5 linked regions of the Homo sapiens genome follow. The protein of the gene in region 4 interacts with the protein of the main gene of each other region in a pairwise test. Each region holds a gene or a part of one and is shown on either strand. Other genes may lie near its edges. The genes, in order: PTCD3, GTF2A1, RAB35, TBPL1 and ABCF3.

Evidence for each region.
Region 1: the proteins of TBPL1 (region 4) and PTCD3 interact in a two-hybrid assay, tested with the Homo sapiens proteins (one large-scale study listed by IntAct).
Region 2: the proteins of TBPL1 (region 4) and GTF2A1 interact in binary tests that used the Homo sapiens proteins (3 or more experiments, as listed by UniProt).
Region 3: the proteins of TBPL1 (region 4) and RAB35 interact in a two-hybrid assay, tested with the Homo sapiens proteins (one large-scale study listed by BioGRID and IntAct).
Region 5: the proteins of TBPL1 (region 4) and ABCF3 interact in a two-hybrid assay, tested with the Homo sapiens proteins (one large-scale study listed by IntAct).

Annotation. Positions count from the first base shown.
Region 1 is NC_000002.12:86,126,423-86,130,234, forward strand, and holds part of PTCD3 (small ribosomal subunit protein mS39 precursor), read left to right. Parts: intron 1-738; coding exon 739-883; intron 884-1,518; coding exon 1,519-1,569; intron 1,570-3,812. UniProt on the Homo sapiens protein: Mitochondrial RNA-binding protein that has a role in mitochondrial translation.
Region 2 is NC_000014.9:81,189,680-81,193,491, forward strand, and holds part of GTF2A1 (transcription initiation factor IIA subunit 1), read right to left. Parts: intron 3,161-3,812; coding exon 2,840-3,160; intron 1-2,839. UniProt on the Homo sapiens protein: TFIIA is a component of the transcription machinery of RNA polymerase II and plays an important role in transcriptional activation. TFIIA in a complex with TBP mediates transcriptional activity.
Region 3 is NC_000012.12:120,097,060-120,099,948, reverse strand, and holds part of RAB35 (ras-related protein Rab-35), read left to right. Parts: intron 1-794; coding exon 795-919; intron 920-1,013; coding exon 1,014-1,138; intron 1,139-2,575; coding exon 2,576-2,704; 3' UTR 2,705-2,889. UniProt on the Homo sapiens protein: The small GTPases Rab are key regulators of intracellular membrane trafficking, from the formation of transport vesicles to their fusion with membranes.
Region 4 is NC_000006.12:133,980,488-133,984,299, reverse strand, and holds part of TBPL1 (TATA box-binding protein-like 1), read right to left. Parts: intron 1,733-3,812; coding exon 1,650-1,732; intron 1,484-1,649; coding exon 1,420-1,483; intron 1-1,419. UniProt on the Homo sapiens protein: Part of a specialized transcription system that mediates the transcription of most ribosomal proteins through the 5'-TCT-3' motif which is a core promoter element at these genes. Seems to also mediate the transcription of NF1. Does not bind the TATA box.
Region 5 is NC_000003.12:184,191,540-184,194,505, reverse strand, and holds the end of ABCF3 (ATP-binding cassette sub-family F member 3), read right to left. Parts: intron 1,906-2,966; coding exon 1,817-1,905; intron 1,702-1,816; coding exon 1,610-1,701; intron 1,405-1,609; coding exon 1,272-1,404; intron 1,142-1,271; coding exon 1,054-1,141; intron 967-1,053; coding exon 808-966; 3' UTR 501-807; downstream 1-500.

The sequences.
Region 1 (3,812 bases), on a different chromosome or scaffold from region 4:
TATTCATTTATTTTTCATAATAGTTTTTCTGTTACAAAGTAATGCATATTTGCTGTCAAATCCTATCAGGTGTAATTTCAAAAAGTTGAAATCACTGGATTGATTCTCGCCTAGTAACTTAAGAATAGAAACGGCTGGGCACGGTGGCTCATGCCTATAATCCCAGCACTTTGAGGCTGAGGCGGGTGGATTACCTTAGGTCAGGAGTTTGTGACCAGCCTGACTAACATGGTGAAACCCCGTCTCTACTACAAAAATACAAAAATTAGCCGGGCATAGTGGTGCTCGCCTGTAGTCGCAGCTACTCAGGAGGCTGAGGCAGGAGAATCACCTCAGCCCACGAGGCAGAGGTTGCAGTGAGCCAAGATCGCACCACTGCACTCCAGCCTGGGCAAGAAGAGCGAAACTTTGTCTCAAAAAAAAAAAAAAACCAACCACTTTTTTATATCATACTAGTCTATTATTTTTGCGTCTTTTCTTGGAAAACTCTCCTAGGTAGAAGACTGAAGACAGTTGACCACCTCTATCAAGTGGGGTGGGTGTTTGAATTAGCAGGCTTCTTTAAAAGGCAGAATCATGGAACCTGCTAATTAATAAACAGTTCTTAAAAGAGGGATATAGTTACTAACCTGCTTTAAACATAAGCAAGAAAGCTAAATTCTTTACTTTGTATGAAACATAGATTATTGGACAGATTACCCAGGCATGAAAGATACTTCTTGTTTTTTATTCACCTAGGAGCTGCTAAGACACATGGTTGCACAGAAGGTGAAACCAAATCTTCAGACTTTTAATACCATTCTGAAATGTCTCCGAAGATTTCATGTGTTTGCAAGATCGCCAGCCTTACAGGTTTTACGTGAAATGAAAGCCATTGGAATAGGTGAGGATGCGCCCTTGAGTTCTCTGAGGACAGAGACTGTGCCAGCCAGAGGTTTCAGGGCTACATAAGCAAAGAGCTTTAAATTATTCTTGTGCTTACATAATATGTTGGAAATTTTCTTTCCATGTTTGGCACATTTACTTACATGTACTTATTATAGTGGGAGTGCCTTTATCATCTTAGTGTTCATTAGTATTTTAGGTACTTTGTTTATGGATCTGTTGAATCTGAGGAGAAGTGATTGCTTTGAGTTAGCTAGTTTTAAATTCATGACATTTTCCCAACATAATTAGGTATTTGAACCTAAGTGTGTGCTAGTGTATTGTATATTTTTCATTAATTACTTTATTGAAAGTTGCTTTGGGAATCAATTCACTTCAATATATTTTACTGTTCTCAGTGAAGAATGTGACTAATAAGTATTTGGACTTTCAAAAAGTGATACAGTCTTTGTGATAGTTTTTTACCTTTACATTAATGAGTTGGAAAATAACTTTGTTCAAAGGAATAGAAATGCATATTTTGCTTAAATATTAACAATATGTTTTTAATTCAGTGTGTCTCAGTAAACTATGTTTTGGATTGCTGTGTTTTTACCTCATTGTTTATTTTTTCTGTCTACCTGGTAATTTGAGAACCCTCGCTTGCAACATATCACCATATTATTCGCCTGTTTGATCAACCTGGTATGTATGGCCTTAAATTGTGTTAATTTATATAGAAAATTGACCAGCTTTCTTGAGTTTATGTGATTAATTGTTGTAGTTATCTTCTCTGCATATGAATTAAGAAGAGAGAATTTGTAAATTAACCTGTACAGCCTGAGCAGAAAGTTGTGGTTTTTTTAGATACAGGATCTTGCCCATTGCAGCCTTGAACTCCTGGGCTCAAACAGTCCTCCCTCCTCAGCCTCCTGAGTAGTTAGGATTACAGATGCCCACCAGCATGCCTAGCTGATTTTTTTTTTTTTTTTTTGGACAGGGTCTTACTACCTAAAATTATTCTTGAGGGTAGCAATCTTGTTTGTGGTCTAAAACTTGAGCTGGAGGGGAGAGGGTTATGGATTGTACTGGCAGTGATGTTGTACAAACAGGAATTGGGTAGAATATATTTTGGTTGAAATTCCTTTTGTTCTCTGGAGCTGTGCTATTTAACACCATAGCCACTAGCCACATGTGGCCAGTTAATTAAAATTAAGTAAAATAATAAATTATTTTGTCACATTGGTGCTCAGTAGCCATGTGTCTAGTGGCTACCATGTGTCGTGATGCAGATTCAGAACATTTCCATCTTTGCCAAAAGTTTGTGGACGTTTCTGCTCCAGAGGAAAGGTAAACTTATTGTGAAGCGTTTTGGGAGGACCTCAAGGCTCCATGCGTTGTCCACTTTTAGGTCAGTTCCAGTGGGAGCTCTGCTCTGTAGTAGATGGACTTTGAAGAGAGACACACCTGAGCTGAGATGTCCACTCTACCATTTATTTACCAGCTATGTCAAAGCGACTAGATACCTACCTGAGGAATAGCAGCAGGGTGTGGTAGTTAAATGAGTTCCACACTGTGTCTGCTACTGTGCTTGGAGGGCACATATGAGGCACTCAAAATCTTTTGGTTCTTGTCCATTATCCCCAGCCTGAGAAATAACCCTTGAGTTCAGAATTGACAGTTCTAGTCATTCTTTCTTGTGGATAGACTATAAAAATTACAGAAGGGAAGTTGTTTCTCTCTGGTTTGGAGGACTAATTTTGTAAAATCCATATCCTCACCTGTATAGGCAAATTTTATCTTTAGGAAAAGGAACCAGTTAATTGACTATACCTTGGAAACAGGTAAACAGTTTCCATAATTGTGTCCCCTAAAATTTTACTCAACCTTGGTGAGATTGTGATGGAGCTAGTATTTCTGACTCCAAAGTATATTCCTTTCCTCTGTAACTCTCATCACTGGTTCAATTGCTAATCAAAGTCAGATGTACTTACATTTCCTAAGTAACAGCCAGGACTGGGGGATGGGGGTTCTGGGGGAGCTGTGTTGGTTTGTCTTATGTATATAAATTTGCCTGTCTGCAGCAGTAGTTTTGGCTTACGCCTGTAATCCCAGCAATTTAGGAAGCCAAGGCAGGAGGATTGCTTGAGCCCAGGAGTTTGAAACCAACATAGAGAGACCTCCATGTCTACTAAACATGAAAAAAGTAGCTGGGCATGGTGGCGCACCCCTGTAGTCCCAGCTACTCAGGAGTGTGAGGCAGGAGGATTGCTTGTGGCCAGGAGGTTGAAGCTGCAGTAAGCTGCGTTTGCCCCACTGCACTCCAGCCTAGGTGACAGAGCAAGACCCTGTCTCAATAGTAATAATAATTTCTAGGAATTTACCCAAAAGAGAGAGCCTAAAATAACCTAGAAACAATACATTGAAAAGAGAATATTATGTAACTAATAAAATTAAGAATATTAGCAAAGGGAAGCATGCTTGAGTAAATTGTGAAACTCTATCTGTACTGTCATTACAGCTTTACTACCACAAACATACAAAACAGGTAGGGAAAGGAGTGTAGAGAAATATTTGACTGGGAATATTGCAGATGATTTTCTGACCTATTAGTGCTCAGTTCATGTTATATTTAAGAACTGCCCTGTCCATTAATTCTAGTTTACTTTTTCTTGACCTCATTCTGATTATATTTAAAGGGAACACAAATGATTACTAGCAAAAAACATTTTTAGCCGGGTGCAGTGGCTCATGCCTGTAGTCCCAGCACTTTGGGAGGCCGAGGCGGGCAGATCACGAGGTCAGGAGTTCAAGACCAGCCTGACCAACATGGGGAAACCCCTCCTCTACTAAAAATACAAAAAATTAGCCAGGCGTGGTGGCGAGGGCGTTAGTCCCAGCTGCTCGGAAGGCTGAGGCAGGAGAATCGCTTGAACCCGGGAGGCGGA
Region 2 (3,812 bases), on a different chromosome or scaffold from region 4:
ATGGATCAAGCACACAAAAAATATCAAGGATACATAAAGAGCATCTGAGCAAACCTACTGACAATATAAATCTAACAGACACATACAAATACCAAACAAGTGCAGAAAACACATTCTTTTCAAAGCATATACAAAAACTGACCAAATCAAGCAAGTCTCAAGCAATTTCAAAAGATTCACACATCACACAGATCATATTCTCTACAAACAAAACAGTTAAGTCAGAAAAGAATAGAATGGGAAAAACACACTAGAGAGAATAAAGCTAAAAGTTTACTCTTTGAAAACATTAATAAAATCAACACATCCCTGGTAAGACTGAACAGGGAAAAAAAAAGATGGCACAATAATTATATTAGGAATGAAGATGACAAAGGATTCTGGCATCAAAAAGACAATATCATGATTAACTTCATGTTAATCAACTTGAAAATTTAGATAAATATATAGAGAGTCCTAGAAAAATATAACTTATCAAAACGGTCTCAAACAGAAACAAAATACTTGAAGGGCATGAGATTACTAGACCCAGGTATCTGTAGTGTCATGTTTTAACAAATATCAACAGAAGAATTAAATACAATCTTTGAAAAAAAAAAAAGAGTTCAAAATACAGGAAACATGTCCCCAAATTCATTTAACAAAGCTACCATAACTGAAAACCTTGTAAGAAGAGTATGAGAACAGAAAATCACACAGTATCTATCAATCATAAATATCTACAAAAAAGTCCTCAACAAAATGAATTCAGCAATTTATAAAAAGAGAAATATAAAATGATCAAGTTGTGCTATCCCAGGAGTACAAGATTGGTTTACAAATAGAAAATCAATTAATGAAATCCATTATAAATAACATTACGTGAGAAATTATACAAATCATTGCAGAAAAGGTGTTTAATTAAATGCAACATTCACTTACAGTTTAAAAAACAAAGCAATGCAAAGAAGGGAATTTACTTAACCTGATGAAGATATCCATTAAAAAAAAAGAAAACCCACAACAAACATTAAACTTAACAGTGAAGCATGGAAAAGATTACTTTTCAGTTTAAGAAGAAGAGAAGAGTGCCTGCTATCACCACTTCTAATCAATACTGTTCCCGAAGGCTTAGCCAATGAGCCACAAAAAACTGCCGTTCTTCATATAAGATGTGAAAGTCTACACAGAAGATACAAAAGAATCTACAGATACATTATGAGGACTAACAAAAGACATTAGGACGGTGGCTGGTTCAAGGATGAATATTAAAAGCGCTACATATTTCCATCCTACCAATAAACTGGAAAAGGTAATAAAAACATGTTACTTCAAGAAGCACTGAAACTATGAAGAATTTAGGGGGAGGAAACGGGCAAGAGACCTCAATAAGCACTTCTATACAAAACACAAATATCAAATAAATATACAAAAAGAGGCTAAAACTCCTAAGTGAGGAAATGCAAACTAAAACCAAAATGAAATAATACTATTTTCTACCTACCAGACCAGCAAAAATCAGGAAGCCTGACACTATCAGGTATTGATAAGGGGGTATGGACATCTGCACAATTATGTATTGAATGGCAGAAGTGATTTGGCATTTTATTATAAAGTTGCAGATGTGCATGACTTAGGAGCCAGAAGTTCAATGTTCGGTATAAAATTTAGAGAACCTCTTGCATTTGTGTCCCCAGAAGACATACACTACAATATTTTATAACTGTTTGTAACAGTAAACAACAAGAAACAATCCTTATGTCCACTGGATTAGAAAAATTGACAAATAAAATTATGGTATATTCAGCAATGAAAATAATTATAGCTATATGCAACAACTTGGATAAACCTCAGGAATATCATTTTAAGGGGAAAAAACCAACTTGCAGAAGAATACGTAATTACTTCATTTACGTTGTAAACATGCAAAACTAAACAATATGCTATTTAGGAATATAAATATATATGGTAAAATATAAAAGCAATTAATAATCAACACAAATGTATGAGCAAAGGTACTTTGATGGCCTAGGAATGATGGGATTAGGGAGAGGCATCTAAGGCACTTTAAATAATGGAATTTTATTTTAACTAGATGGTGGGCACCAGGATGATTTTTATCTTGAAACATTTCTATTCATTTGTGTCTATTCAATATTCAATAATAAACTATGTTTTCTTCAGAAAAAAAATTACTTAGATAATTTAGAAGAACTTTGTACTAAGAAACAAAAAGACTGCATTTTAGGCTAACGAAGGCAATTAACAGTGAAAATTGTGGTGGGACAAATAGTTTTTGGAGCCTAGTAACTAAGCTGAAATAGTGAGGAAAACAAAGGCATATTTATATGCTTCTAGAAGAACACAGACATTAAGGGTACATAGGTTTTTAAGGAAGTGGTATAGAACATGGACCAAAAGGTTTTAAATATTTAATAAATTTGTGACATTTGGTTCTTGAGTTTGCTCTCTCCCCAAATGTTGCCACGCTTTTTAAATTACTGAAGCAAAAGATTAACCACATCTATTTATCTACCAATGTCTTATGTTTAAGCCACATTATAAATGCGTAAGCCAGAGTTAGAATTACCTGTACTCTTTACTACACATATTAATACAATTTAATTTGTTATACATTTTTTATTACCAGCTATATGAAAGTTATATTTTATGAAGATAAATATAGCCAGAATATAAAAACCTTACTAAAGTTAAAACAATCTAACTTTATCTTTAAAATCTTATGTTGTACAGCACCTAACAGTCTCTGAAAAAAACAGGATATAATTTATCAGTGTTGTACCAACTAAAAAAGGAAATAATCAAGTAGATTATTTTAAGTATGTTACTAGAAACTTACTTCTTCCACCTGCCCATCTTCAGCTCCATCTTTCTCTTTGTCTTCCTCCTCATCATCATCATAGTCTTCTTCTTCATCTTCATCTTCTTCAGATGATGTATCCCCAGTTCCATCAACTTGTAAGACCAATGGAGCTTGTGTTTGAGCAGGCTGGGCCTGCGGTTGCTGCTGGCCAGTTGCAGTTATCTGTGCTTGGGCTGGTGTAGGTGCTGCCACTGTCGTAGGTATAACTTGAGTCTTATTTCCTGTAAATAAGATTTGCTGAGGCTGGATGATGACACCTGTCTGTGGTGAAATCCCTCCAGGAAGAGGAGCCAGCACCTAAAGCAAAAGAAAACCACATAACAGTAACTAGTTAAGAGGATCAAGTATGGTACACAGAAATAGAAACAAATGCTTAAGATTCACCAGAATGGCCATATTTCATACACAGTTAAAAACTACCAAAGTACAAAAGCAATTAGTTTAACTAGTGTAGTGACCCATTAAATTTCTATTTTATCAAATTTCTAGAAAATAAGGATTTTCTAAAGATAACTGCTTCATTTATTGAGCACATACTATGTATATGCCAGCTACCAGGACAAAAGTTATACACTGCCTTCACATGAAGAACACTGGACTGAGAATCTGAAAACCTGGGTCTACCTTTTTTTTTTTTTTTTATAGATGGAGTCTCGTTCTGTCACCCAGGCTGGAGTGCAATGGTGTGATCTCGGCTCACTGCAACCCCTGCCTCCTGGGTTCAAGCAATTCTCCCACCTCAGCCTCCTGAGTAGCTGGGACTACAGGTGCGCGCCACCATGCCCGGCTAATTTTGTTATTTTTAGCAGAGACGGGGTTTTGCCATGTTGGTCAGGCTGGTCTCGAACTCACGACCTCATGATCCGCCCGCCTCCCAAAGTGCTGGGATTACAGGCGTGAGCCACAACGCCTGGCCAACCTGGGTCTACTTTTGTCTAAAGTCAGACAT
Region 3 (2,889 bases), on a different chromosome or scaffold from region 4:
GGGCGGGGCTGCCGCCTGGCCTCCGGCTCTTCGACAGCTCTCGGGGAAGCGGAGGCTGTGGTCCCCCTCCTCCTCCGGGGATTGATGTCGTCCTGTGCCACTGGGATGAATGGGGACATGGGGTCTGGAGAGGAGAGTTGGGCCTCCCCTTCCTTCTGGCCTTCCTGGCTGGCCCTGGGCTCTGCATGTTTGGGGTGATGGCTTTGCTGGGCGCCCTCTCCCCAGCCATCCCTGGATGCTTGTGTGGCTTCCATGCTTTTCCTGCCACCTGCACAGATGAGCCAAGAGTAGCAGGAAGGGAGGTGCCTACCTGCCCCAGGGGAGGGGCACAGACTTTGCCAGGGCGTCATGATGGTGTGGCTTCTTGGAAAGGTTCTCTAAAACAGGTTTGAGGAGCAAATATTTTTTTGAATGTTCAAAGACAGTGATAACATGATGTCAAATACAAAAACTGCCTGATTTCCCAAAATAAAGCAAGAACTTCAAAGATGTTTCAAGCCTGCAGCAGACTCTGAACAGCAGGAGGTGACTCCTCAGACCTGCTCTGCTGCCCAGGGGCTGGCCCTCCCGCCCTGTTGGTGCCCCGGGCGGGCAGGGGGAGTCAGTGCTGCCGCAGTAGCCTCTCCTGCTGGCCTGTTGTGGCTCGGGGGCATCTGCCGAGGCTGAGTGAGAGCCCAGGCTCCAGGGCCACCCTCACCTTTTCCGGGTCAGTGTCCTGACGTGGGCAGGTGGGTCCCGGCAAGGGGGTGACTCCTGTCGGGGTTGACATGCTGCCGCACACTCTGGCCCTGCAGGTATTATCGGGGGACCCACGGGGTCATTGTGGTTTACGACGTCACCAGTGCCGAGTCCTTTGTCAACGTCAAGCGGTGGCTTCACGAAATCAACCAGAACTGTGATGATGTGTGCCGAATATTAGGTGAGGCTGCACTCAGGGCCGGGTCGGGGTTGGGTGGGAGAGAGGCAGCCGGCTGCGCCCCTCAGGGCTGCGCTGACTCTGCCTTCGTTTGAAGTGGGTAATAAGAATGACGACCCTGAGCGGAAGGTGGTGGAGACGGAAGATGCCTACAAATTCGCCGGGCAGATGGGCATCCAGTTGTTCGAGACCAGCGCCAAGGAGAATGTCAACGTGGAAGAGGTGAGGCCCTGGGCCACTGTGGCTCTGCCACACACCCGTGGCCGCCTTCTCCATGCTGCTGGCCTGCTTGAGGCATCTAAATGACCAACAGAAAATGTCATAGTAACTGCCATTTATTGAGTGCCTACTATGTGCCAGGCCCTTTAACGATCTTAGTTCATAGTTCAACAGTCCTCTGAGGTAGGTACAATTATACCCACATTTCAAATAGGGAAACTGAGGCTCCAAGTGTTGAAGTAACTCAAGGACCACCACCTGGCTAGTAAGAGACTGAGTAAACCTCTGTCCCACACCAAAGCCAAGCACAGTTTCCACTCCAGTCCTCTGCCTCATTGGCCGCCTTGTGCTGTGTGGAGCCCAGAGGCCTGTGGAAGTCGAGGATCCCACTGCTTCAGGGCACAGGGGCCACACAGCAGCGGGCACAGGCTCCTTTGTAAGTCAGGCTGGTGTCCTGATGCTGGCCCATCCACCTGGGCCTGTGGGCAAGGCTGGTATGACCTTGGGCGGTGACTTCACCTCTCTGGGCCCCACATGCCATGAAGTGGCGTGGAGCAGGCAGACCCCGGGTCACCTATGTCCGTGAACAGCAGGGGCACTTTCATCTGTCATGTCATAAGATTCCAGCTGGGCCGGGCGCGCCGGCTCACGCCTGTAATCTCAGTGCTTTGGGAGGCCGAGGCGGGCGGATCACGAGGTCAGGAGATCGAGACCATCCTGGCTAACATGGTGGAACCCTGTCTCTACTAAAAATACAAAAAAATTAGCCGGGCGTGGTGGTGGGCGCCTGTAGTCCCAGCTACTCGGGAGGCTGAGGCAGGAGAATGGTGTGAACCAGGGAGGCAGAGTTTGCAGTGAGCTGAGATCACGCCACTGCACTCCAGCCTGGGCGACAGAGCGAGACTCCATCTCACAAAAAAAAAAAAAAAAAAAAGATTCCAGCTGAAGGAAAGGGGTTGGTCTCTCTAAAAGAAGGACTGGAAAACCCCTGTGAGATTGACTTCCCCAAGTCCACACAGCTCATGGGCCTCTGATGGTGTTCCTTTTTTCAGACTTATTTATTTGTTGAGTCAGGGTCTAACTCTGTCATCCAGGCTGGAGTGCAGTGGTGTGTTCACAGCCCACTGTAGTCTCGATCTCCTGGGCTCAAGTAATCCTCCCACCTTAGCTTCTCAAGTAGCTGGGACTACAGGTGTGCACCACCACTCCCGGCTAATTTTTGTGTTTTTTGTAGAGGTGGGGTTTTAGCAATGTTGTTCCTTTTTGACCTTTAAATAAAATAATTCACCACCTCCTTCTAGAATAGGCTTTGAAGACATACATACCAAAAATGCACAGGTAGAAAGAGCTGGGCCCCGGAAGGCGGGGAGGCAGCCGTGCAGGCCAGCAGGGGCCTCCTGGCCAGGTCTGAGGCGGGCCCTTCCTCTTTCCTCTCCACAGATGTTCAACTGCATCACGGAGCTGGTCCTCCGAGCAAAGAAAGACAACCTGGCAAAACAGCAGCAGCAACAACAGAACGATGTGGTGAAGCTCACGAAGAACAGTAAACGAAAGAAACGCTGCTGCTAATGGCACCCAGTCCACTGCAGAGACTGCACTGCGGTCCCTCCCCCAGCCCGAGGCCCACGGAGGTTCCTCGGGGGACAGTCTCAGTTTCGTGCCGTTATTTAAAGAATTCTCTCCATGTTTTTGTATCGGGAGGTGCCATCGGCACTTCCTCCCCCGCCCTCCTCGAGTGCCAAGAAGGTGTTGGA
Region 4 (3,812 bases):
TAAAAACAAGAGCAAACAAGATAAAACAAAAACATTTTAAGTGTATGTTTAGTACTGTAAGTTGTGTAGCATGGAAAGCTTTAATTCAGTTTTTTAAAAAGCTCAAAAACTCCATTAAAAAAATTAAAAACTGAGGTATTTGCATGATCAAAACAGTATGGGTCTTTCTAATCATATGTTTAATTTTTTAATACTTTAAGTGAAATATTTAAAACTACTGAGAAAGGAGAGAGAATAGTGAGGGAAAAAAAATTTAAGTCCAGGTCATCCTGCTAGAGTAAAAATGGAAAAGATGTCACTTTAAAGTCAGTAAATACAGAGTGTACACTGGGCTCCAAAAGTCAGATGTTTTTCTCATATGCAATAAGGCAAAATGACATTTCTGTGAGATTAGCTAGATGTTTATTTTCTTTCTGGGGATAGAGTGATAAATTTGTTTCTAACTAATTGGGATTTCTCTCAACACTTCTAATGTTACACTAAGAAAAGAAGTTCCAAGGCTGAAAATAATGCTGTTAACATTAATAACTTTGGCCACTCCAACCAACATCTTCGTTTCATCTCATTATCTTTTCAAACATTCCTCCTAAAACCACAATTTTGGGTGAGCGAACTATCCTTCAACTCAGCCTTGCACACAGCAGTTGCGCAAAGCCAGGAAACCGCAAAGTGGCAGCACTCTCAAATCACAGTACAACTCAAGCCTCTCTCTACTGCCACCCTTCTCAAGCACCAACCCCCACTCCCCACCAGCCGTTCAGTCTCTTCCTATCACCCTCTACTTCAGAGAGACTGAGTCATCAGAGGGAAAGGTAACTTCCTATCCCCACTTCTACAAACTTGTCTCAATCCCAAACAGCCTTGCCCTCATCTTCAGGGACCATTCTCATCTTTATCTTTCATTTATTCATCATTTGCAAGTGACCTAGCAAGTCCATAATATGTAATCGTTTTATTCAAAGGTATACCTCTATCAAGTTATAGTGATGAGGCTGACATGCCAGTGACAGTCACGTTACAAGTGTGAGAGCCTGCCAGCTGGTGTGTCCATGTCAACGGCCTCTGCCATTCTCTATTCACCATTCTGACCTGGCATTCTTGAGATGACCAAAAACCATTTTGTTTGTGTACGTCAGAGGTGAAAACACTTAAAAAAGAGTTGAAAAGGAAATTAACTTGTGAGGAAACAAGTCTCTTTATGGGAAAGGAATTAGGGAAAAAGCTAGGATCCTTTACAAATACCCACATAGCCAAATTTTGCTACTAATTTTCACACTGAAGGGCAGTATTAAAAAACCTAGAAAAAGTTTAATCATAAGAATAGTACGCATAGTGATTTCTTGAGTCTATTACAATTTTTAATTCTATAAAAATAAGTCCTTGAATATTTGTAGTTTAGATACTATTTGAAAACGTTACCTGAAAACCTAGTTTCTGCAGACTACGGGCTAAGCGTCTGGCACCAAATTTAGCTTCTTCTTCACTACGGTTTTAAGGAAAGAAAAAGATTATCAGTTACACAGGAAATAAATGTTATACTGAGGAACATAACAAACTTTACATATGATTTTGCTGTTAAGTCTAGGAAAATGTCCTTTCCATGAGGGAAAAAGTAAAAAATAAAAACAAAAAACCCAAGTAGCATTTACCTTGTTGCTCCAGTGCAAATAATTTTTCCTGAGGACCAAATTGTAGCTGTAATTCTAGGTTTTCTAAGCTTCATTAATACTTTCTGGGGGGAAAAAAAATCTGATTACCTCATAAGCATTATTTTTCACATAAGGTTCTGTTCTATATAGTCATATTAATGTCCAAATACTACTCTCCAAGCTTATCCAAGACTGCAATAACTGCTCTCCAAATCTACCATTCTGAAATCAAGTACAATACCAAACACAAAGAACATATTAATCCAAAAAGACATTTGATTAATTAAAAATACAAGGTGTATAGAAATCTCTCACTCTATATACTTGAAATCAATGTACTCCAAGTATATAAACAATTCAACTCTCATTCCACCCCAGTCATATAACTGGAACTTGCATGGTTCTTCACACACACCAAATCTGTTCATGCTTCAGAAGCTTTGCAGTAGCTGTTGCTTTCATTTGGAATATTATCCCCTCAATATTCTCACTTCATTCAGGTCTCTTACCAGATGTCACCTCCTGAAGAGAGGCCCTCCCTAATCATTTCCCTGAAACACCCATCCCTTCATTGCTTTCTAATTCCTAATTCTGCTTTCTGCTGCTTCATGGTACCCATCACTACTTTATATTGCATCCTAGAGTTGAGATGCTTATTACATACTCAAGTTCAACATCGGCATCTTGAATAAAGGAGAAATGTTGGAGCTGGAGATGTAATTGGAAATTCATTTAAAGCTATGGGTTACAATGAAATAACTACAGAGTGTGTATAAATAGGTCAAGGACTAAGCTCCAAGAAAATATGCAAATTTAAATTTTCATTCCAACTTTTCATTAATGGAAATATTTGTTAGATGCTCATTCTATGTAAGAAAGACATAAATGCTCACTGACTAACATAAATGAATCAGATGTTTCTGCTTAAAATTTTTGTTACATTTTGTGTTCTTCATTCTCTGTCATATGCCATATTATCAAACTAGAAAGCTATTAAATCTGGGCAGACTCAAAATTCACCAAAGATCAAGATAAAATTTGAACTAAAATACATTATAAAATTTCATATACAAGTGACTGAGAAACACTTGACTGAGTTTATCCTACATTTAATTGTCTCTCACCATCACCAGCTTGTCTATCAACTCAGAATTTTCAATTAACCTGCCTTAAAAAAACTACTTCCTTTCCATATGTCATGCTGAAGTACCAAAGCAGTGTTAGGCATATTCCTCTCTAAACTTTTGAGCAGACATATTTATTACTTTTCTAAAGGAAGGATGGGATTGCTGACAAACTTGAAAATCTTTGTGAGTCACTGAAATTTTTAATTGAATTTAATTCATCTTTACTTAGTTTCTAGTACTAAGAATTAATGACGGCCAGGCACGGTGGCTCACGCCTATAATCCCAGTACTTTGGAAGGCTGAGGTGGGTGGATCACAAGGTCAAGAGATTGAGACCATCCTGGCCAACACGGTGAAACCCCGTCTCTACTAAAAATACAAAAATTAGCTGAGCGTGGTGGTGTGCACCTGTAATCCTAGCTACTTGGGAGGCTGAGACAGGAGAATTGCTTGAACCTGGGAGGCAGAGGTTGCAGTGAGCTGTGATCATGCCACTGCATTGCACTCCAGCCTGGCGGAAGAGTGAGACTCCGTCTCAAAAAAAAAAAAAAAAAAAAAAAATTAATTAATTAATGGCAATTTACATAGGTATCCTGGCATCTAATTTTTAAAGCTAAATAGAGCCTTGAGATACATTCTTAATTTTCATAACAAATGTGTAAAATACATATTCCTCTCGTCAATCTTTGGTTTATAATGACATCCAATGTCTTTTATAATGTTAATCTCAAAACACTAAGGTTTTATTATTACTTATTAATATTCAGGCTTTAAAATATTACAGGTTTAACAAAAACTAAAATTTAAGATGTCCAGGTTAAGATATAAATCATATTATTTTCAGCAGTTTGTTATGAAAGAAAACCATCTACCTTTGTTAAAGAATATGACAATTAAAATATTATAAAAATTATAATATATATTAAGGCATCATTCAAATATAATTCAAATATAATCATATTTGAATAGGTACATGTGCGAATATAAAGGTCCCTTTCTTCAGTTAAAATAAATTGAGAGAGCAATAAAATGTCTC
Region 5 (2,966 bases), on a different chromosome or scaffold from region 4:
CCCTCCTATATGGTTAGAGGAAATATAAAGAACATGCAATCACCCAAGCAAAGTGAGGACAAAGATGGTTTCTCTTCAGTGCTGAGTCTAGAGAGCAGAGAAGCAGGGCAAGCCGGAGCCAGATATGACTGGAGAAAGCAGCTGGCCACGTGTGAGGCCAGGTTACACAATCAGTTCAACTGCCCATCAGTGGGGGCTGTGACGACAGAACCCAAGACCCCTTCAGCTGAGGCTGAGCCCAGGCTAGGGCTAACAGCACCGCAATGATGCCAATACACTGCCCTTCATTCCACTGGCTCAGCCCACCCCAAGGTCAGGCAGGCAGATGACCTCCATGCCCCAGTAGCTTGACAATGTCTCTTCTAGAGGCAAGGCTGGTGCTGCTATTGCTTCCTACACGTGAGGGATACAAGTGCCATAGGAAAACGCCAATCCGAGAGTCCACAGCCCTCAGTAGGAGGCAACCACTGCCCAGGGAGCAGCAGACATGAGGCAAAGGAGACGCGGGGAGAGATTTAATTTACATAGCAGCCACTTGGGGTCCAGTCAGAGCTGGGGCAGTGGGGGAATCTATAACCCCAGAGGGTACCCCCCAGACCCCCACCCCCGGGAGACCAGTCCTCACCAACCCTTGGATGGGCTCCCAAGGTTGTGCAGAAGATGCTCCAGTCAAAAGGATAGAGACATTTGGGAATAAGGCTGTCCCCAAGTTGGGGGAAGTCCACGGCCTGGAGTGGTGGCCTACATGGTGGCCCAGGGGTCTGAGAGACCAGTCCATGTCCTGGGCGAGTCCTCAGCCTGGTGGCCCTAGAGGAAGCCTTCGCGGCGGAACTGTTCCTGGAGGAGGGCGCGGTACTGGTCAAATCCTCCTTCCACACGGGTGACGCCGCCTCCTTCGCATACCCACAACTCCCGGCACACCAGCCTGATAAAGCGCTCATCGTGGGACACCAGAATCACACCACCCTGAAAGACAGGAGGGCAGGAGGTGCTCAGGGGGACACAAGAGGCACCGAGGCCTGGGAGGAGTGGTCAGGGTGAAGGCACACTCACCCTGAAATTGTTGAGGGCACGGCCCAGAGCCTCAATGGTCTCCATGTCCAGGTGGTTTGTGGGTTCATCCAGAATGTAGAAGTTGGGGCTGGAAGGCAGAACCAGGAAGGTGGGCAGTGAAGGGGTGCGGTGAGAGAAAATAAAGCCTTCTGATACAGTTTTCTACTGGGCAAGAAGGGGAAATGGGAGGGGAAGAGCTCTGGAAAATGAGGCCTCACCAGGGCATAGTCATCTGAGCAAAGGCCACTCGGCTCTTCTGGCCCCCAGACAGGCTGGCAAGAGGACGCATGGCCAGTTCTCCGGAGATGCCATACCGACCCAGCTGGTGACGGTACTCCTCCTCAGGCCGCCCTGGAAAAGGACTCCCCAGATCAGGTGGCTTCTTGGCCCAACACCCTCCCTGTGCCCTCCAGCCACACCTCCAAGTCCCCATGTCCTTCCATCTAGGCTTGGCGGGGCTGCTCTGCACGCACCCCAAGGCAGGCCTAGCTGCCGGGGTCAGCCTCAGCCCTCTTCCCTACTCAAACTCTTCCCCCGACTCAAATCCCTAACTCACCAGGAAACTTGCGTGCCAGCAGTTCCACAGCACTGACGTTTAGGTCCAGCTGCTCCACATGGTGCTGGCTGAAATAGCCAATCTTCAGATTCCTGCAGGCAGAAGCCGAGGTGGAAAAACAGACAAAGGCAATGGCCACGAAGGAGCGCAGGCAGCATGGGTGCCTGCAAATGTGCTCATGGGGGCAGGGGTGCGGGTGGGCCTGACCTGTGAGCGTGTCTGATGCCCCGAACAGGTGCCAGGTCCCCCAAAAGCAGCTTCAGCATGGTAGACTTCCCAGCCCCATTCTCTCCAACCTTAAGAAACATGAAAATGTCATACAGTGTGTGCCAGAAAAATAAATACGGTATGTTCTCATTCATATGTGGGCACTAAAAAGTGTTGAGCACATAGAAGTAGAGAGCAGAGTTGTGGTTACTAGAGGCTGGGAAGGATAAGGGGGGAGGAGGGGAATTGAGAGAGGGGTTCGGGAGAGGTTGGTTAACTGAAACAAAATTGCAGTTAGATAGGAGGAATGGAGGAATAAGTTCTAGGGTTCTACAGCACTGCAGGGACGCTACAGTTCACAATGATAGACTGTACATTTTCAAAAAGCTAGAAGATTCTGAATGTTCCCAACATAAAGTGATAAATGTTTATGATGAATATGCTAATTACCCTGATTTGATCATTACACATTGTATACATGCATGGAAGTATCACTCTGTACCCCATAAATATGTACAATTATGTATCAATAAAAAGAGCACCGCTGTGTGTAACACAGAGGAGAAGGAAATTAGAAGGGGTCCCAGGCAGTCCCCAGTCCCGATGACTCCTTCAACAACCAAAAAAATATTTTTAAGGACTCTAGCCGGGCACGGTGGCTCAGGCCTGTATTCCCAGCACTTTGGGAGGCTGAGGCAGGCAGATCATTTGAGGTCAGGAGTTTGAGACCAGCCTGGCCAATATGGTAAAACCCCATCTCTACTAAAAATGCAAAAAATTAGCTGGGCATGGTGGCGGGTGCCTGTAATCTCAGCTACTTGTGGGGCTGAGGGAGAACTGTTTGAACCCGGGAGGCGAAAGCTGCGGTGAGCCAAGATTGTGCCATTGCACTCCAGCCGGGGCAACAGGGCAGGACTCTGTCTCCGAAAAAAAAAAAAAAGGAACTCTAACTCTACAGAAAAATGCATATACTAAGGTGAGCAATACTTGAGTATTTGCTAAGTGCTGGGGACTTACTTTTCCCAAGAACCAAGTGAGGTAGATGTCAGCGCCATCTTAAGAGTTAGGAAGCTGCTTGGTAACCAAGCTAGGAAATGGCATAGTCAAGATCCGAAGTCTGACCCTGAAGCCCATGCTCTCTCCTCAATGT